Regions from separate parts of the Homo sapiens genome. Here regions 1 and 2 are each linked to region 3. Evidence: fine-mapped expression QTL. A gene starts in region 3. Each other region holds a variant in brackets. All regions are shown on one strand. Distances are between the middles of the regions.

Region 1 (11,021 bases), 84 kb after region 3:
AGAGTGATATTGGTGGTTAAGTTCAATGACAAATGACAGCTGAGTACTTGGATGGTCAAATTGGTGTTTTTGTTGATATAGTCTGGTGATTATCTGCTACTTCTTTCCGACTTACATGTATTTGGATTCCTCCAACTCTACAATTAATCAGGCAATCAATCAATCAATCAAGGAGGTAAGGAAAACCGCAGCAGAATGTGATGATGAAAAACCAAGGATAGTAATTATTAAAATAGAAACATGCTCATGCTTCCATTACTATTTATATTCATTTATCTCTCATAGTCTTTCTCTTTTATTCCCCTTTCTTACACACACACACACACACACACACACAGAGAGAGAGAGAGAGAGAGAGAGACACTAAGTAGCCAAACATTGCATCAAACCCTAAACAAAACAGAGTAAACAAAGGAGCTAACTCTGGAGAAAGCAGCATTTTGATCCTCTGAGTGAGGATGTCACAGCAAATACCACATTACTGACATCCAGATACCATTACCAGATGGTACAGAATACATCCTACACTGTAGAGTTTGTGTTGATCCAGGCTCTGGTTCTCAGACTGTTCTCACAATGCAGATCACCAATCACTCAGGGTTGGCTTTTGAATCTTCAATCACAGTCCAGAAGTTCCTTCAAGCTCCCATGTAACTTTTGTTATTATTTTGACCAAAATATTATAGAATGGGTACATTGAGTCTGGACTAAATGATGACTTTCTTCACTCATAATAGCTTTATTTAACACTAGACTATAAGACTATTATCAATCTCCCTCTAAGATACATACTTAAAATTATATTTTATAGTGAAATGTATAAAGTTGTTCTCAATACTTCCAACATTTACCACATAATTTTTACTCTTGGTTTCTGACACTTCAGTCACAATATTGCATCATTTCAGCATAACAGCTTTCAGTGCCTAATCCATCCAGTGGGGCTGCATTTGGACATTGAATTGTTTGTTGACTAATATTTGCCAACACTAACTGTGCACCAGGTTTTGTTCTAGATGCTTGGAATATGCCAATTAACAACGTAAATAGATTTCTTACACTCTGAAAGCTTATATTCTAGTGAGTAGAAACAGACTCTGAAGACATAAAGTGGTAAATATATCACAGGCCGGAGAGCAAAAAAAGATAAAAGGAAAAATAAAGGAAGACAAAGGAAAACACAGAATGATGGATGCTGTACTCCTATAGATATTTCACTCAAAAGCTTTTCTTGAAATAATGAAATCAGAACAAAGAATGGACAGAGTTGGGGAGTGAATAATGTGGTTCTTATGCAGGAAAAGTGTTCCAGCACAGAATACAGCCAGTGCAAATGCCCTGGGATAGCAATGCACTAAACATGTTTAAAGAACTGCAATGAGACAGTGTGACCAAAAGAGAACGTGAGTGGAGAAAATGGCAGAGACAAATTAGGAGAAGCAGTGAGAAGCCAGATCGCGTGGTTCTATGTTATCACATGGTAAACCTTTAAAAATTATTATCTGAGCGAGACAGGAAGCCTTTCTAGTGCTTTAGAAAAAAGAAGTAATATGCTTTAAATTAGGTTTTACAAAGATCACATTTTGGTGAATAGACTAAGATGTCACAGATGGAAGTCAAGGGAAGTGGCAAGAGCACATGGAAGAGGATGCAAGAAGAATCATGATGAGGGATGGGATGAAGGCAGCAAGGGGTAACCATCTTGACCTTCTGTTTTTTCTCTCCCCTGCAGGAAGCCACAAGCAGCCCAGCCCTCCTTAATCAACTTCAAGGAGCACCTTCATTAGTACAGCTTGCATATTTAACATTTTGTATTTCAATAAAAGTGAAGACAAACGAACTGTGTCTTTTTCTAATAGAGAATATAATCTCAATGAAAATGGTGGGTGAGTGGAAATGAAGTGGAGGAAGCTAACTGGATTTTCGAGCTTTATGGCTCATGAAATATCTATACTTGGCTGATGAAGAAAACTGACTGATTTATCCCCAACAATAGGATGAAAGATGTTGCCGAAAACTATAGTGAGATACTGCCTCATACCCATTTGAATGACTCCCATCAAAAAAAGCCCCAAAAAACAGAAAATAACAAGGGTTTGAAGGGATGTAGAATAATTGGAATCCTGTGCTCTATTGGTGAGAATTTCAAATGGTACAGCCACCTTGGAAAACAGTATGGTATTGCCTCATAAAATTAGAAGTAGACTTACCATATGCTCCAGAAACTCCACCTATGGGTACATAACTAAAGTAATTGAAAGCAGGGTCTCAAAGATATATTTATACACCCACATTTATAGCAGCATTGTTCACAATATCTAAAATGTGGAACTATCTGATAACTGATAAATGGATAAGCAAAATGTGGTGTATACACATAATGGAATTTTATTCAGCCTTTAACGAGAAGGAAGTTCTGACATTTGTTACAATATGGATGAACCTTGACATTATGCTATGTGAAATAAGGCAGCAATAGAAAAACACATACTGCATGATTTCACTTACATGAGGTACCTAGGGTATAAAATTCATAGAGACAGAATGTAGAATGGTGATGGCCAGGGACTGTGGGGAGGAGGAAATGGGGAGTTATTAGTTAATGATATAGAATTTGAGCTTTGCCAGACAAAGAGGAATTCTGAAGGTAAATGGGGGTGACACTTATATGACTTTATGAATGGATTTAGTATCAAACACTACATTTAAAAATGTTAAGATGGTCAATTTTGTGGTATGTATTTTTACCACAATAAGACATTGGGGACAAAAGGGATAACTGGAGGTGAGAAAAGATGGAGTAAATTGCACCCGGGAAACTCTGATCAACTTACACAGAAGAGAATTAAGCTACTGTGCAAAACTGATGAAAGAAGAAATGAGAGTAAAGTATATTACTTATTATTTCAAAATGAATCAAGGAAATAATCGGAAATCTCACCACCATCAAATATTATGTAGAACAAGAGAGAGATCTGGCAGTGTGAATGAGCTATATTTCATTTTTCATATAAGACAGTTAACCACTTTTCTACTGTGATAAATCTTAGCAAAACTAGGGGTCCAAGCATATACGTCTTTTTCTCCCCCATATGGTTCATCAAACTGAGTTAGGCAACTTTACTTTCACACACCTGTGATGCCTCAGGAGCCACCTTGACATACACATGTCAAGAAAATTATTAATTCTATATCTGATGATGTCTTGATTCCACTTTCACCATACAAAGCAGAGACCAAAGGTGTCACTCACAGATACTCATCTATTCTGCCTTAGTTGTTAAATAACTGTCTAGTCATTCATGTGAAGACCCTCTTGTTTCCCAAGTGATGTGCATGGTTTCAGGTGACTTACATCTTTAACAGGACTTATTATCAATCAGTCAAGCATGTGGAAAAAAAATTCAGTAAAGAGTATCCAACACATTGGGGTAAAGTTCTCCAGAGAAGGTGAGGCTTTTTCAATGTCCATCTTTCTTTAGGTTCACTATTTGGAAGTTACCTTAACACAGAAGACTCTCAAGCAGTGTATTCTCCCTTCCTAGGTAACAGTGCTTCTAAAAAAA[T/AT]AGCATTGTTTGAATCCCATCTTCCTTGGTATTAATTACATAGGATAAACCCAGGGTGGGAGGGCTATGGGTAATTCTCATAGATTATTAAATCTATGAGAGTATATATAATAGAGTAACCTATGAGTGTATATATAATATATATACACTGAATTAGTAATCATTGAATTCCTCTATAGTACAAAATATTTTCCTTAAACTGTGAGCAATAATAGAGAATTCAGTGGAAAATGATCTATGCTGGAGTACATTAGAATTTGACTCCACATAGAAAAGGTCTGCAATGTTGGGATCATTCAGCAGTCCAATTTGCCCAGACATCAAGTATTTATAGAATAGTGGAAGCAGAGGGCAGAGAAGCAGAAAAACAAGCAAGGCACATTTGGGTCCTACCTTAAAGTGGGTTTTACCTAGAAGTATGAAGTACATAAAACAGAATATATCTGAATAATTGTAAATGTAAGCTTTGGTGTAAGATCCTTGCTTTTATAGACTGACACAGCCACTTAGTACTTGGTAAATTAATTTCATTTATTTAGCTTCTCTGGGCTTTCTTTGAGTTCCTTACTAATAGATGTGAATATAAATATCATTGTTCTAAGGATGTAATGAGTTAATATAGGCAAAATATTTAGCATAGTCCAGAATAAAGAAGGTGTTAAACAACTGCTATCATTAAAGATATTTCTACTTTGTAACTTAACTCAGTTAACTTCCTTATCAAGGTTTAAATAAAAGTCATTTGAATCTTTTCATTCACCATGTTTGGCAGTTTCCTGGGACTTGCATTCTCTTGGTCACCTATGGCCTGAAGGTCTTGGCTCTGCTCATATAGTTAAATTACATATTGTCTATAATGAGATGCCCTCCCTCAGGAGACAGACTGGTTCCACATTGTGCTGACCATATCCTAAGGTAGAATTAACTTTTTCCATGATCAAAAACGATGATACCACACAAAAGACCCAAACATTTCTAGCTTCAGTGTAATTAGTAGACTTTAATATTAGATGGAATTGTTCTTTAAAATCATTTGATCCCAGCCTTCTGCATGACTTTTGCCTCTGTCTTTGCAGCCCTTTGTCGGTCCACTGTTTTCTCAACATCAGTCTTGCTGGTTTCTGTCTCTTTCTTTTCTTTCACTACTTTTTACTCCTCCTTTCCAGATGACTATCAGAAACTCCAATTTAGTTATCTATGACTCCAATATTACACCTAGCTCCACATTCCACTGTGTAAATTCCAATCATATCATGGTGCTCTCCTGAAGAAAAATAACCATCTACTTCCTTAATTTCACAAAATATTTGCAGAGACACCTGTCTCCATCTCATCTCTTACCTACTTTATTTAACTGGAACAAGACTTAGTTAAAAACCTTCCTTTAATTGTGATAGACATGGTTCTATATAGAATTTTAATTTATTATTCAATATATTTTATTACCATTACCATTGACTAAAAGATTGGATTAAAGAAAGTGTCCATGGTTATATACAGAGCTATTTCCATTATTTTTCCCTCACACCTTCCTTTGTATAATATTTATATGTCTTCATTACTTCTGTGTCAACTATGTAATAAATTAATTCTTCTTCAATATTTCTGTTGTCCATAAGAACTTTTTTCCTCCAATATTATGTATTTCTTCCGTAATCAACCCTTTCTAGATTTTCACTTTTGTTCTGTTGTACCATTTTTGTATTTAGTTAAAATTTTGTGTAAATATTTTTGGTGAATATTGTTTAATTCTAATTAAAATTATTTTTGAAGTTGATAAATTGAGAAGCTATTAATAGAATTATACTGTAGAGATTGAGTATTACATATCCTATATTATTCCATACACTTGTGATGCTTCAGATATCTTTTGTGTATGAATTATTATCCTCCCCTTTATAGATGAGGCAATTGCATTTCAGAGCTCATGATTAACTTAAATCAGTTAGTAAATATCACTCTTGAAATGCACATATAGGTATGTCTTTTCCATGGACCAGTCACTTTCCTCTGCCCCATTTTACCTTTCTCTTACTCTCTACTAAATTGATGACTTCTTGAACTCAGGGAATACGCTGCTCTAATATCTGCACCACATACAGCACACTTGTCAAATATCAGTAACAATATACTCACTGAATTTTGAATATATTCACTAGAAATATAATCCAGTGTATAGAAAACAAAGTGAATTCCATTGCATGCCTTAGCTGACTTAGAAAAAAAACAATATTTCTTCTTTTTCTTCAGGCAAGAGCCAGTCTTGGGATTTGTGAGGTGGTTTATTCACAGATGTTTCTTGCCAACATTTCACAAGTGGCTTTTTACTCTGACACTTATCAAACATTGGCAAGAATATCCCTTATCCAGTGAAAAGGAGGATATTTTCTGAAAGGTGGGCTAAAGATGCTTCTACCACTTGACTACCCTGGATGCTAGACTATTGCAGTTGGAAACATAGAAAGCAGATCTGGCCTGCCCTGAAGAGATGGAATGAATGGACTCGAATTTACCTGTATCCTTCATGGCTATCAGATCCAGAGCAGATTTTAAAAACCCCGGGGAGGGTCATTCAATGCTTAGATATGCATGTTGCTATGCTTGTTGCAGGTGAAAGTACTTTTTTATTTTTGTTATTCATTTCGCTGTATTTGTCGCAGTTTTTCTGGCTAAAGATTCTACATCAGAGCAAAGGTCTACAGACTTTCTCTTTTTAGGTCTGATTTTCATTTGAGCTTCCAGATTATAGGGCACAGATGCTCATCACTGAGTGACATTGACAAGATGTTTTTATCTCTTCCTAGGACATTAAAAGAAGTAGGCTGTATGAATGCCTGTGGGCCGATGTGTATGTGTGTTGCGGGGTTGAAGAGGTTGGAGAGGAGTACTGAAACTCCATTCTGGTCAAGGTATCTAGCCCTAAATGTGGTTATTCCTCATCCAAAAATTCAAAATCCAAAATTCTCCCAAACCTAAATTTTTTCCCATTACCTCCCACATTTTTAAATTGAAAAGTTACATTAAGAGGTACATGTGCACTTTTGTGACCTAAGAATATTGCATGATGCTGGGGTTTTGGTGACAATTGGTCCTGTCATCCAAGTCGTGAGCATAGTACACAATAGGTAGTTTTTCAACCCTTGTCTTTCTATCTCCTTCCTTCCTCTAGTAGAACCCAGTGTCCATTGTTTCCCATCTTTCTATCCACGTGTACCTAGCGTTTAGCTCCCACTTATAAATGAGAATACACAGTATTTGGTTTTCTGTTTCTGAGTAAATTTGCTTAGGATAATGTCCTCCAGAAGCATTCATGCCACTCCAAAGGATATGATTTCGTTCTTTTTATAACTGTGTAGTATTCCATGTCGTATATGCACCACATTTTCTTATCCAATCCACCCTTAATGACACCTAGATTGATTCACTGTCTTTGCTATTATGAATAGTGCTGTGATGAATATATGAGTGCATGTGTCTTTTTGAAAGAATGAGTTATTTTCTTTTGGATATATGTTCCATAAGAGGATTCCTAGATTAAATGATAGTCCAGTTTGTTTTTTCTCTCTTTCTTTAATTTTCAATTTTAGGTATATATTTATGTGTATACACATAACATATTTATGGGTTACATGAGATATGTTGATACAGGCATGCAATACATAATAATTACATTGTGAAAAGTGAGGCATCCATACCTCAAGTATTTCTCTTTTGTATTACAAATAATTCAGTTATGCTCTTTTAGTTATTTTTAAATGTACAATTAAATTATTATTGACTTTAGTCACCCTGTTTTGCTAGAAAATACTAGGTCTTAATCCTTCTTTTTAACAGTTTTTGGGGGAAATAACCCTCCCCAATTTCCCTGCACCCCACAGTATGCTTCCTAGCCTCTGGTAACCATTCTTCTTCTCTATATTTCACTGAGTTCAATTATTTTAATTTTCAGTTCCTACAAATAAGTGAGAACACGTGATCTTAGTCCTTCGGTGCCTCACATATTTTACTTAACCTAATGACTTCTAGTTCTATCCATGTTGTTGCCAATGACTGAATCTCATTTTTTTTATGGCTGAATAGTATTCCACTATGAATAAGTACCACATTTTCTTTATTCATTTATCTGTTCATGAACACTTAGTTGGCTTCCAAATCTTGGCTATTGTGAATAGTGCTGCAATATTCATAGGAATGCAGATATCTCTTTGATATACTGATTTCCTTTCTTTTGAGTGTATGCCCAGCAGTGGAATTGCTAGATCACATGGCAGCTTATTTTTAGTTTTCTAAAGAACCTCTAAACTGTTCTTTATAGTGGTTGTACTAACTTACATTATCCCCAACAGTGTATGAGGGTTCCCTTTTTCCACATCCTCGCTAGCACTTGTATTCCCTATCAGATAAAAGCCATTTTAGCTAGCATGAGATAATACCTTATTGTAGTTTTGATTTGCATTTCTCTAATGTTGTGCGCCTTTTCATGTACCTGTTTGCCATTTGTATGTCTTCTTTTAAGAAATGGCTATTCAGAACTTTTGCCCATTTTTAAATCAGATTATTAAAATTTTCTCCTATAGAGTTGTTTTAGCTCCTTATATATTCTGGTTTTTAATCCCTTGTCAGATGAATAGTTTGCAAATTTTTTGCCCATTCTGTGGGTTTTGTCTTTACATTGTTGATTGTTTCCTTTGCTGTGCAGAAGGTATTTAACTTGATATAATTCCATTTGTCCATTTTTGCTTTGGTTGTCTATGCTTCCGTAGTGTTACTCAAAAAATCTTTGCCCAGTCCAAAGGACTGGGGAGTTTCTCCATTTTTTGTTATAGTTCCATAGTTTGAGGTGTTTAAGTCTCTGATTCATTTTGATTTGATTTTTGTATATGGCAAGAGTTGGGGGTCTAGGTTCATTCTTTTTCACATGGATATCTAGTTTCATTTTTCAGCACCATTTATTGAGGAGACTGTCCTCTCACCAACGTATGAATATTCTTGGCACCATTGTCAAAAATGAGTTCACTGTGGATGTATGAATTTATCTCTGAGTTTTGTAATCTGTTCCATTTATTTACATGTCGGTTTTTATGCCAGTACTACGACATTTTGATAACTACAGTGTAATTTAAAGTCAGGTATTGTGATTCCTACAGTTTTGTTATTTTTGCTCAAGATAGCTTTGGCTATTTCAGGTCTTTTGTGGTTTCATACACATTTTAGAATTTTTTTTTGATTCTGTGAAGAATGTCAATGGTATCTTGATAAGGACTGCATTGAATCTGGAGATTGCTTTGGGTAGTACGAACATATTAAAAATATTGATTCTTCCAACCCACGAACAAGGAATTTTTACATTTTTTTCACATCCTCTTTAATTTATTGCATTGATGTTTTATAGTTTTCATTGTGAGGGTCTTCTACTTCTTTGGTTAACGTAATTCCTAGGTATTTAATTTTATTTGTAGCTATTGTAAATGAAATTTTTAAATTTCTTTTTCATATTGTTTACCATTGGCAGATAGAAATGCTACCAATTTTTGTAGATTGATTTTTGTATCCTGCAATCTTACTGAATTTGTCTATCAGCTATTATAGTTTTTTGGTGGAGTCTTCAGGTTTTTCCAAATATAAGAACACATAATATGCAAACAAGGATAATTTGAGTTTTTCCTCTCCCATCTGGATGCCCTTTATTTCTTTATCTTGTCTAATTGCTCTTCCTAGAACTTCCAACGCTATGTTGAATAACAGTGTTGAAAGTGGGCATCCTTGCCATGTTTCTGATCTTAGAGGAGAGGTTTTCAGTTTTTCCAGACTCAGTATAATACTATGTGTGGGTCTGTTGTATATGGTTTTTATTATGCTGAAGTGTTTCTTCTTTACCTGTTTTTTTTGAGAATTTTCATGATGACGGCATTTTTAATCTTGTCAATTGATTTTTCAGAATCAGTTGAAATGATTATATGTTTTTCGTTCTTTCTTCTGTTGATACAGTGTGTTACATTACATTGATTTGCATATGTTGAAGCATTTTTGCATCCCTAGGATAAATCTGACTTGGTCATGATGAACAATTTTTTAATGTGTTGTTGAATTTTGTTTGCTAGTATTTGCATCAATATTCATCAATCATATTGGCCAATAGTTTTCTTTCTTTTTTTTAATGTATCTTGGTTTGGTTTTGGTATCAGAGTAATGCTGTACTTGTAGAGTGAGTTTGGAAGTATTTTTGGCTTCCCTGGCAGTTCTGTTTTAAGTTCTTTTTTTTTTTTTTTCAAGCTATTTTAAGTTCTGGGGTACATGTGCAGGATGTTCACATTTGTTACAAAGGAAATGGTGGTTTCCTGCTGAGATCAACCCATCACATAGGTATTAAGCCCAGCATCCACTAGCTATTCTTCCTGATGCTATCCCTTCCCCTGAGCCCCTCACAAGCCCCAATGTGTCTTGTTTCCCTCCCTGTTGTCCATGTGTTCTTATTGTTCAGATCCCACTTACAAGTGAGAACATACCGTTTTTGGTTGGTTGTTCCTGCATTAGTTTGCTGAGGATAATGACTTCCAGCTCCACCCACGTCCATGTCCCTGCAAAGAACATGATCTCATTCCTGTTTAGGGCTGAAAGTATTCCATGGTGTATATGTACCACCTTTTCTTTATCCATTCTATTATTGATGGGCATTTGGGTTGATTCCATGTCTTTGCTAGTGTGAATAGTGCTGCAATGAACATATGCTTGCATGTATCTTTATAATAGAATGATTTATATTTCTTTGGATATAAAAATCTCCAAACTACTTTCCACATTAGCTGAATTAATTTATGTTCCCACCAACAATGTATAGGCATTCCTTATTTATTTATTTATTTATTTATTTATTTATTTATTTATTTATTTTTGAGATGGAGTCTTACTCTCTCACACAGGCTGGAATGCAGTGGCGCAATCTCGGCTCACTGCAACCTCCATCTCCCAGGTTCAAGTGATTATCCTGCCTCAGCCTCCTGGGTAGCTGGGTCTACAGGCATGTGTCACCACACCCGGCTAAATTTTGTATTTTTAGTAGAGATGGGGTTTCACCATGTTGGCCAGGCTGGTCTTGCACTCCTGACCTCAAGTGATCCACCTGCCTCAGCCTCTCAAAGTGCTGGGATTACAGGCATGAGCCATCGTGCTGGACAGCATTCCTTTTTCTTCACAGCCTTGCCACCATTCATTATGTTTTGACTTTTATTTTCACAAAAATTATAAGAGGAGAAAACACTTCTCAATTTACTTTATGAGACTAATATTATCTTGGTATCAGAACCAGATGAAAATACCACATGTAAAGAATAGTATGGATGATTACTGGGTATATATACCCAAAGGAATATAAATCATTCTATTATAAAGATACATTACATGCATGCTACCAAATTTTGTATACTGGAGGATAGTTTGACTTCTTCTTTTCCTATT
Region 2 (11,172 bases), 69 kb before region 3:
AATTTATGTTCTATTTTATCTCACACATTTGATTGTTTTCTGAGCATTTTTTCATGCATGGCCTTGAAAAGCTTCCTTTCTACATTTTTATCTAAAATACTTGTAAAAATACTGATCCTGAAATATGAAAGGAGATCCCTGTATTGCACACCTGGAAATCTCTGGCTGGAAATGTACTCCATTAGCAGTGAAATTATTCAGCGGTGAAAGATCAGGATTGTCTTCCTAAGAATGCATTTCCACTTTTGTGGCTTCATCCTTAGGTGAGGCTGTAAGAAACACAAAGCGGAACAAAGAGGGATGCCAATGTTCATGATATTCTTTGACTCTTGCGACTCCTCAGGCTGTGGCAGTGTGGGACAGCCCTGCTATGCCTACATCCTCAGGCTCAGGAGGAAGCATCAAGCTTTGCTCCCTAGACGAAGCTAAAAGGATATGGAAAGAAAAGTTGACAGAGGTGCCATGCTCAGAACACAAGGTTAGAGTGGGGTGAAAGATACATTTGAGGCAATTCTGAAATGCAGTGGCTTTTTCTTAGAGCTGTTCTCAACGGAGAATCTTACTTCTGCTTCCTTTACCTAAAAAAAAAAAAAAAATCCTGCATCCTAGGATCCCAGGTTTATAGAAACAGTTCCTAATTGCACCCAATTCCTGGATAAATAACATCAACAATGGCAGCTATTGAATGTTCACTAAGAGTGGGCACTGTTCTAAGCATTTTGTACATGATAATACATAATTTTTAACCTTAAAAATAATCCATTTTAGAGATCTAGAAGCTGAGACATGGGGTTGTTAAATATTCTGCCCAAAGAAAAACAATAAAAAATTAGAGCAATCAGTTTTAGAATTCAGGCATTCTGGCTTCAAAGCTTGTGCATTTTTCAAAATCCTACGTATCAAGAAAAATGAAGTCAGTAGCTAACCTGCCATCTGGGCCTTTGCAGTTTCTATGCCTACTCTCGAAGTAGCACTGAATTCCGTTCCCCATTTTCAATGTGTAGTCCAAGGGATTTGGTACCTTGATAGGACTAAGAAAGGGAAAATGGTCATAAATTAACCAGGTGAATATTAAATTACAGAGAATAAGACTATTCATCCAAACTGCATTTCCTACAGATTTATCCAATAATGGGCAAGTCAAGCTGCACACATCATGCTTGCTCTCATTATCTTTAACAAAGAGTTTGACAGTCTTTCTAAAAGAGTGGGAGCTGAGGTTGATGTCATAGGCATGATGATGCTGCTACAAAATCTGGGGTACAAGGTGGATGAGAAAAGAAATCTCACTGCTTCGGTAAGGTCTATTATACCATAGAGACAACGGTCATGCCCTTTGTGTAACTAAATAATATTAGAAAGCTTGGTTGTAGGACCAAGAATTGTAATCTGTTGATAATCTAAAATATAAACTTGCCATGGAAGGATGCTGGATGCTACATATTCCCCTGAAACATCAGAGTCATTCAGCATGAGTCTGGTTTAACTTAAATGTGAAGGTTTTTTTTTTTTTTTTCTCAGTAATGCCACGTTCTCTTTACCAGATAACTCTGAATGACTTCCTACAACACCTTCCTTCACCTTTCTCGAAATTAAGACTAAAAGGTTTTTTGGCCCTCCATTGTTTGTCATGAAATTACTTAAGAAATCCTTAAGTACTTATTTATTGGCTTTCCAAGGTGCCATGAGGGTTAATCACATAGTCCAAAATCAGCAGTATGGTCTCTTTCAGGAAATGACTACAGAGTTGGAGGTATTTTCTCTGCACCAAGAGCACAAGGCCTCTGGTCTCATGGTATTCGGGAAGGCATTTGTGGGAAGAAATACTCTGAGCAAGTCCCAGATGTATTACAACTCAATGAAATCTTTAAAACGTTGAATAGCAAGAACTGCCCAAGTTTGAAGGACAAACCCAAGGTGATAATCATCCAGGCCTGCCATGTTGGTGAGGCTAATGTCTTTGAGAACACCAGACATTCAAATACTGTCCTCATCTGTATTCATCATGAATTTTCAGTTTATGTCTGTTTTTTAGTGTCAAAGAACATACACTGTCAGCACTCAAGATGTGGCTTCTGTGAATTGTATGACTGGTTGGTAGATATTTGTTTTATATTCAAGTCTGAGACTTTGATGTTTGGTGGTTTTTAAAATTAGTTTGAGAGTTAGAAGAAATAAGAATTGTTGAAAGAATGTTACTTGAATGTATGTGTGTATGTGCATGTGAATTAATGATAGAGCAAATATATTGATAAATATGATTGAACAGACGCTAAGAGGAGAACGTTGTCCTCTCAGCCATTGGTAGTAGTAACAAACCAAATTTTGTCTTTCCAGAGAACCATGGTGTGGTGTTGGTAAAAGATTCAGTACCGGCCTCTGAAAATATATCTTTACCAACTCCGGGAGATTTTGAGGATGATGCTATTAATCAAGTACACATAGAGAAGGATTTTATTGCTTTCTGCTCTTCCACATTAGGTAACAGGTTTCTTGTACACAGAACATCTTTGTGGGTGTTATCAATAGAAAAACTCACAGCCACCCACTAGAGGGTAGATACCTGTGCAGAACTTTAGATAAGATTTTTGAACACAAACTAAAGCTTTGTTCCAAGTTATACACAGGATTCCCTTTATCCTCAAAGAGCAAGTAAGCACTTCTTTTCACTGATTTAGTAATTAATGAACTCCTCTCTGTTGCAAAATATTTTAGAACTGTGAGAGATAACAGAGAATGAAATGGAAGACGATCTCTGCTGTAGAACATTAGAGTCTGACTCTACATAGAAAAGGTCCTCCATGTTGAGATCATTCAATGGACCAATTGGGCCTAACATCAAGTATTCATAGGAGAAGAGTAGAAGCAGGGTTCAGAAAAGTAGAACAGCAAGCGAGGAACTTTGGGCCCCTAAATTAAAGTGGGTTTTACCTAGAAGCAAGTATATAAAGCAGAATATATACGCATTATTCTAAATGTATGCTTTGCAGTAAGAATCTTGCTATTATTGACAGATCTAGTCATTTAGTACTTTGTAAACTAGCTCCACTAGTTCCTCCCTGTACTTTCCTTGAATTACTCACTAATATATATGAATATAAATATCATTTTTTAAGGATTAAAGAAATTAATATATGTGAAATATTGCACATGACAGAAAGAAGTACACATTAAAGAACTGGTATTATTTAAAATGTTTTTATTTTATAACTTCATTCAGTTACTTTTCTTAGCAAGGTTTAAATAAAAATGACTTGAATGCTTTTATCCACCTTGTATGGCAGTTTCCTGAGAGGACTCGCATTGTCTTGGTCACCTCTGGCTCAAAGGCCCTGCCTCTGCTCAAGTAGTTAAATTTTCTGAAATAATTTGTACAATGAGATATCTTCTTTCAGAAGAAGTTTGGTTCTATATTGTCTTGAACATGCCCTGATGCAGAACTCAATATTTTTTCAATGATCAAAACCAATGACAAGATAAACACACAAAAAAATACATTTCCAGCCTGAGTACATAGAGTAGACTATAACATTAGACAGAACTGTTCTTTAATATCCTTTGATCCCAGCCTTCCACATGACATTCATGGCCCTCTATATAGCATTTTGTAGGCCCCCGGCTTCTCATCACCAATCCTGCTGATTTCCGTGTTTTTCTTTTCTTTCATTTTCCTTACTCCTCCTTTCCATATGACTGTCAGAAACTCCATTTAGTTATTTATAACTCCCATATTAAGCCTAGCTCCACATTCTGCTGTGCAAATCCCAACTATTTCATAGTGCTCTCCTGAGGAAAAGTAACTATCTACTTCCTTAATTTCACAAAACATTTGCAGAAACACCTGTTTCCACCTTATCTCTTACCTACTTCCTTCAACTAAGATAGCTGTGGTTCTAAATAGAATTTTATTATTAATATACACTTTATGACCATTATAATTGGCTGAAATGTGTCATTAAAGAAGTCTGTGATTATACACAGAGCTATTGCTACTGCTTTTCTCTTATGCCTCCCTTTGTATAATTTTCACATGTCTTCATTACTTCCGTGTCTACCATGTAATAAATATTGTTTTCTTTAATATTTTTCTCTTCCATAAGAACTTCTTATTGTCCATTATGATGTCAACATCCTTTTATTGACTTTTCCTAGATTTCTACTTTTGTTCTGTTTTATGATTTTTATGGTTAACTCTTCGTGTGGAAATATCTTACAGTCAATGTTATTAAATTTTCATTAAAATTTTATGTGAAGTACATACATTGAGAATTTATTAACATAATTACCCTGTATAGACTGAGTATTACATACCCTTTGTTAGCTCAGACACTAGTGTAGACTCAGATATCTCCTGTGTATGAAATTGTTACCATTCCCTGTATAGCTGAGTCTATTGCATATCAGCATGGACAATTAACTTAAATCACAGTCAGTAACAGCACTTTGGGGATGCACATTTAGATATTTCTTTTTCAAATCCCAATTCCTTCCCTTTACCACATTCTGCCTTTTCCTAACTCTCTACTAAATTTACGACTGTAACTCTGGGACTATGCAACGTTAGTACCTGCACCATATACAGCACCATTTAGAGTATCAGTAAAAATATACTCACTGAACTTCAAATGTATTCACTAAAAAATACAGTGAAGTGTATGGAAAATAGATGAACTCCAAAATATGCCTCAGCTGGAGCAGAAATACTAGAGTTTCTTCTCTTTCTTCGGGCAAGAGTCAATCTTGAGATTTAAAGCTTTATCAATAGATAATGTTTGCTGGAGACATCCTGCAAAGGGCTCTTTTTGTTATGAGTCATTGAACAACTGCAAGAATATTCCTGTTCCTGTGATGTGGAGGAAATTTTCCACAAGATAGGGCTCTAGTGGATGCTATTTTCACTCTGCTTCCCCGAATGCTTGGCTATTGCAATTGGAAGCATAGAAAGCAGATCCAGACATGTTTATCTTCCAATAACACCCTTCCTTCCAAAAAAGTTTTGAAGTTCTTTGGAGAGTGAACAAGCCTGGGAGCCAGATCCAATCTGTTAAGACCAACAGCCTCAATAAAATAATCATTTAGTTTCACCCACCTCCTGCCCTGCAGAGACACATGAATGGACTCTAATTTCCCTGTGTCCCTCATGGACATTAGATCCAACCACAGATTTAAAACGCCCTGAGGAGAGTGATTCAATGCTTAGATAAGCACATGGCTGTACTTGTTGTAGATACAAGTACTTTTTGTTTTCATCACTTACTTTGCTAGATTTGTTTTAGCCTTTTTGGCATGAGTTAATAATCTTTTCAGAAAAACAGGTCTCCAGACTTTCTTTTCTCTTTCAGGTTCAACTTTCATTTGAGCAGCCAGATGATAAAGCACAGATGCCCAGCACTGAAAGAGTTACTTCGACAAGACGTTTCTATCTCTTCCCAGTACATTAAAATAAGGAAGCTGTATGAATGTCTGAGGGCCGGTATGTGTGTGTGGTCAGGAGTGTGGGAAGGTTGAGTAAAGTGTACTGAAAGTCCATTTTAGTCAAGGACTCGAAGTCTACCGATTGAGAATTTTTAATCCAAAAATTTAAATTTTGAAATGCTCTAAAATCCAAAACTGTGTGAGCGCCCACATGATATTCAAAGGAAATGCTTATTGAAGCATTTCAAATTTTAGGTTTTTGGAATAAGGATGCTAAACCAGTAAGTATAATGTAGATATTCCAATATACAAAAATATCTGAATTTCAAAATACTTCAGGTAGCATGAATTTTGGATAAGGGATAATCAAGCCGTGGCATAATATACAGAAAATACTGAAGTAATGCCTTTCTTCTGGTCTCTGCAGAGCATGCTGCTCTTCTTCCAAAGTTTTTCTTTTTTTCTTTTAGACCCTTTCTGAGGGTCAGCTGATATTGACCTAGAAGTGGCCATAAGTCTATGAAGGCTGACTCTTAGATGTTTCTCCCCTTCACCTCAGCAGGGTAACATTTTAAAATAGCATGTGGCCTTTCCTTTTAAGGTTGCATATGTTCCCATTGGTGGTATAACTTTATAACTTACATTTCTTTTAGCAAAATTCTCTTTTATGCTTGTTTTTTTTCCCCATAGGAAACCTAGAGTTTCTTCATTCTGTAATGGTTTTTGGAATTATATCTGTTTAATAATAGACTTCTGAACATTTTAATAAATCTGATATAAAAGTAAAAACATGTCCTCAGTTTTCTTCCACATTGGAGCAACAGTGGTTGGAAATCAGAGGGAGTACTGAATTTAGAATGTTAGACTTAATCCGTAAGACCTGAACTGGCTATTGGCACCATTTTTTCATTCAAAATACCATTTGCTGCTGGATTGAAGACACAAATTACAAATTAGGGATGCAGATACAAATTACCACAGGTACCCGACTTCAAAAAATTTAGAGCTCTGCAGGAGAGATGGAAAGAAGACGAATAGTTATGACAGTGACACTGCAGTGGGATAAGGGACTTTTCCCAAATCCCAGTTTACTACCAAAAATCCATCAACAGAACCTGCATATTTCTACCCTTTGTTAAGGTATTTAAGAGAGAGAAAGTAAATTTTGAATTAACTGTAGACCTTCAGTAGTTCACAGACTTCTTGAAAAGGTAAGAC[A/C]TACATCAAAAATGAAGCGCTTGGCAGATGGTGCATGACACCCTGAAGAAACTCTAGGATGCATGGTGTGCACAGTGAAGTCCCTGCATGGCGCAAAGAAAATGAGTTAGGGCTGAAATCACTCACTCAGGGATGTTAAGATTTAGGGAGGATTGGAAGAACTACCCTTTCACCTGCAAATATGAACCTTTTCTAATCTTTATCCTATTAATTCAAAGTGAATATCTGACCTTTTAAAAACCTTCGTAGTTGAGCACATTACAATCCCTTTTTTTGTGTGGCCTTTTATTAACTGTTTGTCTGGGCACGTCTTTTCTGTACTATTGTGCATATTCTACTACAACCTAAGACTACATCTGTGATCAGTCTTTGCGCAGAGAATATCAAAAAGCAGAAGTAAATTGTCACCCTCAGTAAAAATTAATTGTTAAGGCAATCTTAAGCAGTTGAAGGAAAGCATTCCAGGGAGTAAAGGGATTCCTCCAGAGCGCTCTCCAATCAAAGGGTAAGATGACAGGGAGATGTGGAGGGGAAGACACTGTCATGATTCCTCAGCACAGTTTAAACGGTTGCAGGTGCCAATAGTTTTTGTTTTTGTCATTTATGTTGCTGTATTTGTTGCAGTTTTTCTGGTGTAAGATTCTACATCACAAAAGGTCCACAGACTTTCTCTTCTTAGGTCCAATTTTCATTTGAGCTTCCAGAGGTAGGGCACAGATGCTCATCACTGAGTGACATTGACAAGATGTTTCTATCTCTTCCTAGGACATTAAAAGAAGTAGGTTGTATGAATGTCCGTGGGCAAATGTCTGTATGTTTGTGTTGGGGATTTGAAGAAGTTGGAGAGGAGTACTGAAGCTCCATTCTGGTCAAGGTGTCTAGTTCTAAATGTGTTACTCTTCATCCAAAATTTCAAAATCTGAAATCCTCCAGTATCTACATTCTTTCCTATTACCTCCCACTTTTTTTTAATCAAAAAGAGACACTGAAAAGTCTGCAATAATTGCTAGTTTAAATGCCTTCGTTCCATTAAATTGTAAGAGTGTCTCCTATTGATATTTTTTTTTTATATAATTCCAACTTTTATTTTCCATCAAGGGGTACATGTGCAGGTTTGTGACCTAGGTATATTGCATGATGCTGTGGTTTTGGTGACAATTGCTCCTCTCATCCAAGTTGTTAGCATAGTACATAATAGTTAGTTTCTCAACCCTTGACCCTCTACCTCCGTCCTCCCTCTTATTGACCCCAGTGTCCATTGAGCCCATTTGTATTCTATGTGTACCCAATGTGATTATTCTTTTGTTTCTGTACCCATTAACATTCCCCAAATTCCCCCACACCACACTATGCTTCCCAGCCTCTGGAAATAATTCTTCAACTCTCTGTTTCATTGAGTTCAAATATTTGAAATTTTAGCTTCCACAAATAAGTTTGATTTGCATTTCACTAATAATAATGTTGTGCATTTTTTCATATACCTGTTTGGCGTTTGTATGTACTCTTTTGAGAAATGTCTATTTAGATCTTCTGCCCATTTTTAAATCAGATTATTAAAATTTTCTCCTTCAGAATTGTTTGAGCTCCTTATATATTCTGGTTTTTAATCCCTTGCCAGATGGATTGTTTGCAATTTTTTGCCCATTCTGTGAGTTTTTTCTTTACTTTGTTGATTGTTTCCTTTGCTGTGCAGAAGGTTTTTAACTTGATGTAATCCCATTTGTCCATTTTTGCTTTGGTTACTCATGCTTCTGGAGTGTTACTCAAAAAATCTTTCTTAGTCCAAAGGACTGGAGAGTTTCTCTATTTTTTGTAAGAGTTCCATAGTTTGAGGTCTTTGATTTAAGTCTTTGATTCATTTTGGTATGATTTTTGTATATGGCAGGAGTCAGGGGTCTAGGTTCATTCTTTTGCATGTGGATATCCAGTTTATTTTCAGTACCATTTATTAAAGAGACAGTCCTCTCACCATTGTCAAAAATGAGTTCACTGTAGATGTGTGGATTTATCTCTGGGTTTTGTAATCTGTTCCATTGATTTATTTGTCTGTTTTTATACCAGTACTATGACATTTTGATAATTACAGTTCTGCAGTGTAACTTAAAGTCAGGTAATGTGATTCTTACAGTTTTGTTATTTTTCTTCAGAGTACCTTTGGCTGTTTTAGATCTTTTGTGGTTCTATATACATTTTAGGATTTCTTTTTATTTTATTATTTCTGTGAAGAATGCCAATGGTATCTTTATAAGGACTGCATTGAATCTATAGATTGCTTTAGGCAGTAGAGACATGTTAACAATATTGACTCTTCCAATCCATAAACAATTTTTAAAAATTTTTTGCATCCTCTTTAATATCTTTCATTAATGTTTTATAGTTTTCATGGCAAGGGTCTTCTACTTCTTTGGTTAATGTAATTCCTAGGTATTTAATTTTAATTCTAGCTATTGTATATGGAATAATTTTCTTGATCTCTTTTTCAGCTTGCTTACCATTGGCATATAGAAATACTATTAAATTTTGCACATTAATTTTTGTATCTTGCAATGTTTCTGAATTAGTTTATCAGGTCTAAGAGTTTTTTGGTGGAGTCTTTAGGATTTTTCAGATATAAGGTCACATAGTCTGCAAACAAGGATAATTTGACTTCTTCCTTTCCAATCTCGATGCCCTTTATTTCTTTATCTTTTCTAATTGCTCTGCCTAGGACTTGCAACACTATGTTGGATAACAGTGTTGAAAGTGGACATCCTGATCTTAGAGGAGAGGCGTTCAGTTTTCCCCACTCAGTATAATACTAGCTGTGGATCTGTAGTATATGACTTTTATTATGTTGAAGTATGTTCTTTCAGTACCTGTTGTTTTTTTTTGAGGATTTTCATGATGAAGGTATTTTGAATTTTATTAAATGCTTTTTCAACATCAATTTAAATGATTTTATGTTTTTTGTCCTTTCTTCTGTTGATACAATGTATCACATTAATTGATTTACATATGTTGAACAATTCTTGCATCCCTTGGATAAATCTTGCTTGGTCATGATGAATGATCTTTTGAATGTGTTGTTGAATTTGGCTTGCTAGTGTTTTGTTATGGATATTTGTATCAATATTCATCAATCATACTGGCCGAAATTTTCTTTCTTTTTTTTTTTTTTTGATGTGCCTTTGTCTGGTTTTGGTATCAGAGTAATGCTGTCCTTGTAATGAGTTTGGAAGTATTTCTTCCTCCTCTGTTAGTCTAAGGTTTTTTTTCCTTCAAATTATTTTAAGTTGTGGTGTACTTGTGTAGGATGTGCAGGTTTGTTACATAGGTAAATGTTTGTCTTGGTGGTTTGCTGTACAGATTAACCAATCATCTAGGTATTAACCCAGAATCCATCAGCTATTCTTCCTGATGCCCTCCCTTCCCCTGACCCCCTCATAGGCCCTAGCATGTGTTGTTCTCTTCGCTATGTAAATGTGTTCTCATTGTTCAGTTCCCACTTTAAGTGAGAACATGAGGTGTTTGCTTTTCTGTTCCTGCATTAGTTTGTTGAGGATAATGGCTTCCACCTCCATCCATGTTCTTGGGAAGGACATGATCTGATTTCTTTTTATGGCTGCATAGTATTCCAGCATGATGTTCCATGATGTAGCTGCACAGTATTCCATGATGTATACATACCACCCTTTCTTATTCCTATCTATCACTGATGGGCATTTAGGTTGATTCCACGTCTTTGCTATTGTGAACAGTGCTGCAGTGAAAATACGCTTCCATTTATCTTTGTAATAGAATGATTTATATTCTTTTGGGTATGAAAATCTCCAATCTACTTCCCACAGTGCTGAACTAATTCAGGTTTCCACCAATATTGTACAGGCATTGCTTTCTCTTCACAGTGTTGCCAGCATCTGTTATTTTTTGACTTTTATTTTCACACAAAAAATAAAAGGAGAAAACACTTCTCAACTTATTCTGTGAGACCAATATTAACTTGATATCAGAACTTCACAATAGCAAAGACTGGAATCAACCCAAATGCCCATCAGCGATAGACTGGATAAAGAAAATGTGGTACATATATGCCATCTAATACTATGCAACCATAAAGAAGGATAAGATCATGTCCTTTGCAGAGACATGAATTACCTGGTAGCAATTATCCTCAGAAAACTGGCATAGAAACAGAAAACCAAACACTGCATGTCCTCACTTATAAGTGGGAGCTGAACAATGAGAACACATGAACACATGGAGGAGAACAACACACACTGGGGCCTGACAGGGGGATTTGAAGGGAGGGAGAGCATTAGGAAAAATATCTAATGCATGCTTGGCTTAATAACTAGGTGATAGATTGGTCTGTGTAGCAAACCACCATGGTACACGTTTACCTAAGTCACAAACCTGCACATGCTGCACATTAATCCCAGAAATTAAAAAATTATATCTAATAAATTCACAAATAAAATTATCAAAAATTCTAAAAAACTGAATCCAGCAACTATAAAAACTATTATACATGATGACCAATGATATACTATGGGTGTTTTA
Region 3 (8,000 bases):
ATCCCCTGTATAGCTAGCTGAGTCTATTAAATATCAGAATGCATAATTAACTTAAATCACAGTCAGTAATACCACTTTGGGAATGCACATTTAGATATTTCATTTCCAAATCCCAATCACTCCCCTCTACCCCATTCCGCCTTTTCCTTATTTGCTACTAAATTTATGATTTCAAACATCCCTCAGCTGGAGTATAAATACTAGGGTTTCTTCTCTTTCTTCAGGCAAGAGCCAGTCTTGAGATTTGAAATGTGCTTTATCCATAGATAATGTTTCTTGGAGACATCCCACAATGGGCTCTGTTTTTATTGGAAGACTCATTGAACATATGCAAGAATATGCCTGTTCCTGTGATGTGGAGGAAATTTTCCGCAAGGTAAGATGCTAGTGGATGCTATTTTCACTCTACTTCCCTGAATGCTTGGCTATTGCAATTGGAAGCATAGAAAGCAGATCCAGACAAGTTTATCTTCCAATAATGCTCTTCTTTCCAAAAGAGTTTTGGAGTTCTTTGGAGAGTGGACAAACCCAGGAGCCTAATCCAATCTATTAAGACCCACAGCCTTGAGAAAACAATCATTTAGTTTCACCCCGCTCCTGCCCTGCAGAGACAAATGAATGGACTCTAATTTACCTGTGTCTCTCATGGCTATTAGATCCAGCAGCAGATTTAAAATGCCCTGAGGAGGGTCATTCAATGCTTACATACATATATGGTTATACTTGTTGCAGATGGAAGTACTTTTTGTTTTTGTCACTTATTTTGCTATATTTGTTGTAGTTTTTTGGCATAACTCAAGAAATTCTTGAAAAAAAAAACTCAGCAAAAAAAAGGGCTACAGACTTTCCTTACTCTTTTAGGTTCGATTTTCATTTGAGCAGCCAGATGGTAGAGCGCAGATGCCCACCACTGAAAGAGTGACTTTGACAAGATGTTTCTACCTCTTCCCAGGACATTAAAATAAGGAAACTGTATGAATGTCTGTGGGCAGGTACATGTGTATGGTCGGGAGTGTGGGAAGGTTGAGGAAAGGGTACTGAAAGTCCATTTGAGTCAAGAACTCTAGGTTTACAGGCTGAGAATCCTTAATCCAAAAATTTGAATTTTGAAATGCTCTAAAATCCAACACTGTGTGAGCGCCCACATGATATTCAAAGGAAATGTTTATTGAAACATTTCAAATTATAGGTTTTTGGATTAGGGATGCTAAACCAGTAAGTATACAGCTGAATTCCAATATACAAAAATATCTGAAATTTGAAATACTTCTGGTAGCATGCATTTTGGATAAGGGATAATCAAGCCATATACAGAAAATACTGAAGTAATGCCTTTCTTCTGGTCAGTGCAGAGCACGTTGCTCTTCTCCCAAAGTTTTTCATTTAGACCCCTTTTGAGATTCATCTGATATTGGCCTAGAAGTGGCCGTAAGACTACAAACCCTCACTTTTGGATGTTTCTCTCCTTCACCTCAGCAGGGTATATTTAAACATAGCATGTGGTCTTTCCTTTTAAAATTGTGTATGTTCCCATTGGTGGTATAACTTTATAACTTGCATGTCTTTAACAAAATTCTTTCCTATGTTTTTTTTTTTAATTATTTCTTTTTCTCATAGGAAGTGAAGAGATCCTTCTGTAAAGGTTTTTGGAATTATGTCTGCTGAATAATAAACTTTTTTGAAATAATAAATCTGGTAGAAAAATGAAAACTTGTCCTCATTTTTCTCCCACACTGAAGAAACAGGGACTGGAACTTAGAGTGACTAAGGAATTTAGAGTGTTTGACTTAATCTGTCAGACCCAAACTGGCTATTGGCACCTTTCTTTCCCAGAACTTAAAGTAAAATAAAATATAAAAATTTAAAAAAGAAAATCAGACTTACAAACATAGCAATGTTATTAATTACTTTCTTGAACAAAAATTTATTTTGTGCCATTTTTAAAAAAAGAAAAATCGTTTGCTGGGCTTTCTGCTTTGGGGATGTGATATAAGTTACAGCAGGTATCTGACTTCAAATAATTTAGAGCTCAGCAGGAGAGACGGGGGAAGACAGCTAGTTATGACAGCGACAGTGTAGTGTGATAAAGAACTTTTCCCAAATCCCACAGTTTGCTACTGACAAATCCATGAACTTGCATGTTTCTACCCTTTGCAAAAGTATTTAAGACAAAGTAAGTTTTGAATCAACCCTCAGTAGTTCACAGACTTCTTGAAAAGATAAGACAGCCATCCAAAATGAAGCGCTTGGCAGATGGTGCCTGACACCCTGAAGAAACTCTAGGATGCATGGTGTGCACAGTGAAGTCCTGGCATGGTGCAGAGAAAACGAGTTTGGGGTGAAATCATGCACTCAGGGATGTTAAGATTTAGGGAGGATTCGAAGAACTACCCCTTACTTGCAAATATGTTTTTTTCTAATATTTAACAGATTAAATGAGAGTTAATTTCTGACTTCTTAAACACCTTCATAGTTGAACACATTACAGTCTCTCTCTCTCTCTCTTTTTTTTTTTTTTTACCTTTTATTAACTGTTTCTCTGGGCATATCTCTTCTGTGTTATCATGCATACTCTACTACAACCTGAGACTACATCTGTGATCAGTCTTTGCTCAGAGAATATCAAAAAGGAGAAGTGAATTGCCACCCTAAGTAAAAATTAACTGTTAAAGCAGTTTTAGTCAGTTGAAGAACAGCATTCCAGGAAGTAGATAAGAGGATTCCTTCAGAACTGTCTCCAATCAAAGCGTAAGATGACAGGGAGATGGGGAGGAGAAGACTCCATCATGATTCCTCAGCACAGTTTAAACAAGAAATACATTTATTGAATAAACAATCCTTTCCTTGTTTCTTTTTGCTGTTGTTGTTGACTTTGTTGAGTATCAGTTGGTTATAGGTGTGTGGCTTTATTTTGGGGTTCTCTATTCTGTTCCATTGGGCTTTGTGTCTGTTTTTTTTGTACGAATACCTTGCTGTTGTGGTTACTGTAGACTTCTAGCATAGCTTGAAGTCCAGTAATGTGATGCATCCATCTTTTTGAAAAGCAGTTTGGAGATTTACCAAATAACTAAAAAAAGAACTATCATTTGTCCAAGCATCCCATTACTGACTGAATCCTCAAAGGAAAATGTACTGTTCTATCAAAAAGACATGTGCTTTCAAATGTTTGTCGCAGCACTATTCACTGTAGCCAAAATAATAGAATCAACCCAGGTGTCCATCAATGGTGGATTGGATTTAAAAAAATGTGGTACACTGCTACTATGGAATGTTACACAGCCATAAAAATGAAACCCTGCCCTTTGCAGCAACATGGATGCAACTGGAGGCCATTATTCTAAGCAAATTAATGCAGAAACAGAAAACCAAATATCACATAATCTCACTTGTAAGTTCTAGCTAAATATTGTGTACACATGGACATAAAGACGGGAATAACAGACACAGGGAAATACCAGAGGGAGGAATGAAGGAAGAAGGCAAGAGCCGAAAAACTATGTACTGGGTGCTATTCTCACTACCTAGGTAATAGGTTAAATTGTACTACAAACCTCTGCATCACCTAATATACTCTTGTAACAAACCTGCATATGTACCCCTGAAACTCAAATAAAAATTGAAATGAAAAATAAAGAAACCCAAGATATACAAAATATTTGGTTAATTCTTATGGGAAGATGCAAGGAAACTAGTTAGATTTTACTCATTCAGGACATGTGTTTTTAGACGAGCAGAGGTAGAAAAACTGACAGATCAGAAGAGAGGGATGAATAAAAGAAGATGTGGGGCTATGGAGAGAGAAAAGGAAAAAGAAAACCAGGCTGAGGTTTCAACCCACAAAACAATGTTTTGTCATTTGCATTTTTTTTCCCCAGGGAAGAATCTAGAGTTCAAGAATAGAAAGCCAATTTGCTTACTACAGGGCACTTCCCAATGATGAAACTATAGGTTCCCAGAAGCAACTTCCCATAATCTGTAATCACTTGTCCCCACTCCCTGCAATAAGGAAGTACCTAGTGTATTTTATCTCTGAGTCTGAGGCACTTTCCAGTGCTGTACAAAGAGACAGAGGCTGTTAGCTATGGCTGGTGAGTCTGGGCCCTTTTCTGACTAGCAGCTGGGTACTCAGGTCTTAGAAAAATCTTGATTTATTGCTATGTGACAGGCAGAAATACCAAAAGGGAAATCAACCAATAGTGTGCATGCTGAATCTTTCTCTTATTGGTGGTATGTAGTTTGAATCCTGAGACTGTGTAGAGACACTGAAGGAGAGTATGTTCTCTAGATGTTTTCAAGCCAGAAAAAGGTTAATTCCTTTCTTTCAGCTTCTGGTAATCAAAGAGAGAGTAAGGAAAGACAGAGTAAGTTATTTGTGTGAGAAAACTCCGGAAATTTCTAAATGCACTCTGAAATCTTCTCTGCTTCCTCTTGATTCCAAATTAATCCTCCAGACTATGAACCTTCTCCCCACAATCAGATCTGAGAGCCTCTGTGTTCTCAACGTGTTGTCATCTCTTATCTTGAATTATCTTATTGGTCTGTTTAAAGTGATTGCATTTTTCCACCTTTCTATGTAGTCCTGGTACTAACTCTTATAATGTAATATATCTTAGGTTGCTATCATAGACTTTTAACTGTCTTCCCACTCCCAAAAACTTAACCCTTCAGTCCATACTGCACACTACTTTCAGGCCAACTGTCTTATACACAGAAGCTAAAAAAGCCTATGAGTTGGAGTCCTGGGCTACTTAAGCAGCTCGTATTCCAGCAGGTCATATTGCGTCTTTGGTTTCATTCTCCTCACTGGAAAAAGGAAGAAACTGGAATAGATCAGTGCTTTCTAAACCTTATAACATATATGAATAATCTGCAGTCTTTTTTTTTCTTTAATTTATTTATTTATTATTATTATACTTTAAGTTTTAGGGTACATGTGCACAATGTGCAGGTTAGTTACATATGTATACATGTGACATGCTGGTGGGCTGCACCCACTAACTCGTCATCTAGCATTAGGTATACCTCCCAATGCTATCCCTCCCCCCTCCCCCCACCCCACAACAGGCTCCAGAGTGTGATGTTCCCCTTCCTGTGTCCATGTGTTCTCATTGTTCAGTTCCCACCTATGAGTGAGAATATGCGGTGTTTGGTTTTTTGTTCTTGTGATAGTTTACTGAGAATGATGATTTCCAATTTCATCCATGTCCCTACAAAGGACATGAACTCATCATTTTTTATGGCTGCATAATATTCCATGGTGTATATGTGCCACATTTTCTTAATCCAGTCTATCATTGTTGGACATTTGGGTTGGTTCCAAGTCTTTGCTATTGTGAATAATGCCACAATAAACATACGTGTGCATGTGTCTTTATAGCAGCATGATTTATAGTCCTTTGGGTATATACCCAGTAAAGGGATGGCTGGGTCAAATGGTATTTCTAGTTCTAGATCCCTGTGGAATCGCCACACTGACTTCCACAATGGTTGAACTAGTTTACAGTCCCACCAACAGTGTAAAAGTGTTCCTATTTTTCCACATCCTCTCCAGCACCTGTTGTTTCCTGACTTTTTAATGATTGCCATTCTAACTCGTGTGAGATGGTATCTCATTGTGGTTTTGATTTGCATTTCTCTGATGGCCAGTGATGGTGAGCACTTTTTCATGTGTTTTTTGGCTGCATAAATGTCTTCTTTTGAGAAGTGTCTGTTCATGTCCTTCGCCCACTTTTTGATGGGGTTGTTTGTTTTTTTCTTGTAAATTTGTTTGAGTTCATTGTAGATTCTGGATATTAGCCCTTTGTCAGACGAGTAGGTTGCGAAAATTTTCTCCCATTTTGTAGGTTGCCTGTTCACTCTGACGGTAGTTTCTTTTGCTGTGTAGAAGCTCTTTAGTTTAATTAGATCCCATTTGTCAATTTTGGCTTCTGTTGCCATTGCTTTTGGTGTTTTAGACATGAAGTCCTTGCCCATGCCTATGTCCTGAATGGTAATGTCTAGGTTTTCTTCTAGGGTTTTTATGGTTTTAGGTCTAACTTTTAAGTCTTTAATCCATCTTGAATTAATTTTTGTATAAGGTGTAAGGAAGGGATCCAGTTTCAGCTTTCTACATATGGCTAGCCAGTTTTCCCAGCACCATTTATTAAATAGGGAATCCTTTCCGCATTGCTTGTTTGTCTCAGGTTTGTCAAAGATCAGATAGTTGTAGATATGCGGCATTATTTCTGAGGGCTCTGTTCTGTTCCATTGATCTATATCTCTGTGTTGGTACCAGTACCATGCTGTTTTGGTTACTGTAGCTTTGTAGTATAGTTTGAAGTCAGGTAGTGTGATGCCTCCAGCTTTGTTCTTTTGGCTCAGGATTGACGTGGCAATGCGGGCTCTTTTTTGGTTCCATATGAACTGTAAAGTAGTTTTTTCCAATTCTGTGAAGAAAGTCATTGGTAGCTTGATGGCGATGGCATTGAATCTGTAAATTATCTTGGGCAGTATGGCCATTTTTCACGATATTGATTCTTCCTACCCATGAGCATGGAATGTTCTTCCATTTGTTTGTACCCTCTTTTATTTCCTTGAGCAGTGGTTTGTAGTTCTCCTTGAAGAGGTCCTTCACATCCCTTGTAAGTTGGATTCCTAGGTATTTTATTCTCTTTGAAGCAATTGTGAATGGGAGTTCACTCATGATTTGGCTCTCTGTTTGTCTGTTGTTGGTGTATAAGAATGCTTGTGATTTTTGTACATTGATTTTGTATCCTGAGACTTTGCTGAAGTTGCTTATCAGCTTAAGGAGATTTTGGGCTGAGACAATGGGGTTTTCTAGATATACAATCATGTCGTCTGCAAACAGGGACAATTTGACTTCCACTTTTCCTAATTGAATACCCTTTATTTTCTTCTCCTGCCTGATCGCCCTGGCCAGAACTTCCAACACTATGTTGAATAGGAGTGGTGAGAGAGGGCATCCCTGTCTTGTGCCAGTTTTCAAAGGGAATGCTTCCAGTTTTTGCCCATTCAGTATGATATTGGCTGTGGGTTTGTCATAGATAGCTCTTATTATTTTGAAATACATCCCATCAATACCTAATTTATTGAGAGTTTTTAGCATGAAGCGTTGTTGAATTTTGTCAAAGAACTTTTCTGCATCTATTGAGATAATCACGTGGTTTTTGTCTTTGGTTCTGTTTATATGCTGGATTATATTTATTGATTTGCGTATATTGAACCAGCCTTGCATCCCAGGGATGAAGCCCCCTTGATCATGGTGGATAAGCTTTTTGATGTGCTGCTAGATTCGGTTTGCCAGTATTTTATTGAGGATTTTTGCATCAATGTTCATCAAGGATATTGGTCTAAAATTCTCTTTTTTGGTTGTGTCTCTGCCCGGCTTTGGTATCAGGATGATGCTGGCCTCATAAAATGAGTTAGGGAGGATTCCCTCTTTTTCTATTGATTGGAATAGTTTCAGAAGGAATGGTACCAGTTCCTCCTTGTACCTCTGGTAGAATTCGGCTGTGAATCCATCTGGTCCTGGACTCTTTTTAGTTGGTAAGCTTTTGATTATTGCCACAATTTCAGATCCTGTTATTGGTCCATTCAGAGATTCAACTTCTTCCTGGTTTAGTCTTGGGAGAGTGTATGTGTCCAGAAACTTATCCATTTCTTCTAGATTTTCTAGTTTATTTGCGTAGAGGTGTTTGTAGTATTCTCTGATGGTAGTTTGTATTTCTGTGGGATCGGTGGTGATATCCCCATTATCATTTTTTATTGCGTCTATTTGATTCTTCTCTCTTTTTTTCTTTATTAGTCTTGCTAGCGGTCTATGAATTTTGTTGATCCTTTCAAAAAACCAGCTCCTGGATTCATTAATTTTTTGAAGGGTTTTTTGTGTCTCTATTTCCTTCAGTTCTGCTCTGATTTTAGTTATTTCTTGCCTTCTGCTAGCTTTTGAATGTGTTTGCTCTTGCTTTTCTAGTTCCTTTAATTGTGATGTTAGGGTGTCA

The links. PIP is the estimated chance that this variant, and not a neighbour inherited with it, causes the effect.
Region 1: its variant is the best candidate, but not a certain one, in a credible set for the expression of CASP5 in whole blood (INTERVAL, PIP 0.87).
Region 2: its variant is the best candidate, but not a certain one, in a credible set for the expression of CASP5 in whole blood (INTERVAL, PIP 0.55).

The regions. Positions count from the first base shown.
Region 1 is chr11:104,933,685-104,944,705 of GRCh38, reverse strand. It overlaps CASP4 (caspase 4), which reads left to right. Exons shown (of 9, transcript NM_001225.4): 9 at 1,733-1,840. Among named protein-coding and RNA genes, the nearest start is that of CASP4, 29 kb to the left of the region's middle. The variant T/AT (reference allele first, on the strand shown) is at 3,567.
Region 2 is chr11:105,086,755-105,097,926 of GRCh38, reverse strand. It overlaps the pseudogene CARD17P and the pseudogene CASP1P3. Among named protein-coding and RNA genes, the nearest start is that of CARD16, 47 kb to the right of the region's middle. The variant A/C (reference allele first, on the strand shown) is at 6,634.
Region 3 is chr11:105,019,218-105,027,217 of GRCh38, reverse strand. CASP5 (caspase 5) reads left to right here and starts at 4,050. Exons shown (of 10, transcript NM_004347.5): 1 at 4,050-4,088. The coding sequence starts at 4,082. CASP1 (caspase 1) reads left to right here. Exons shown (of 9, transcript NM_001257118.3): 8 at 267-376; 9 at 862-1,710. The coding sequence ends at 960. The region is part of intron 1 of LOC124902742 (a long non-coding RNA gene); the gene reads right to left.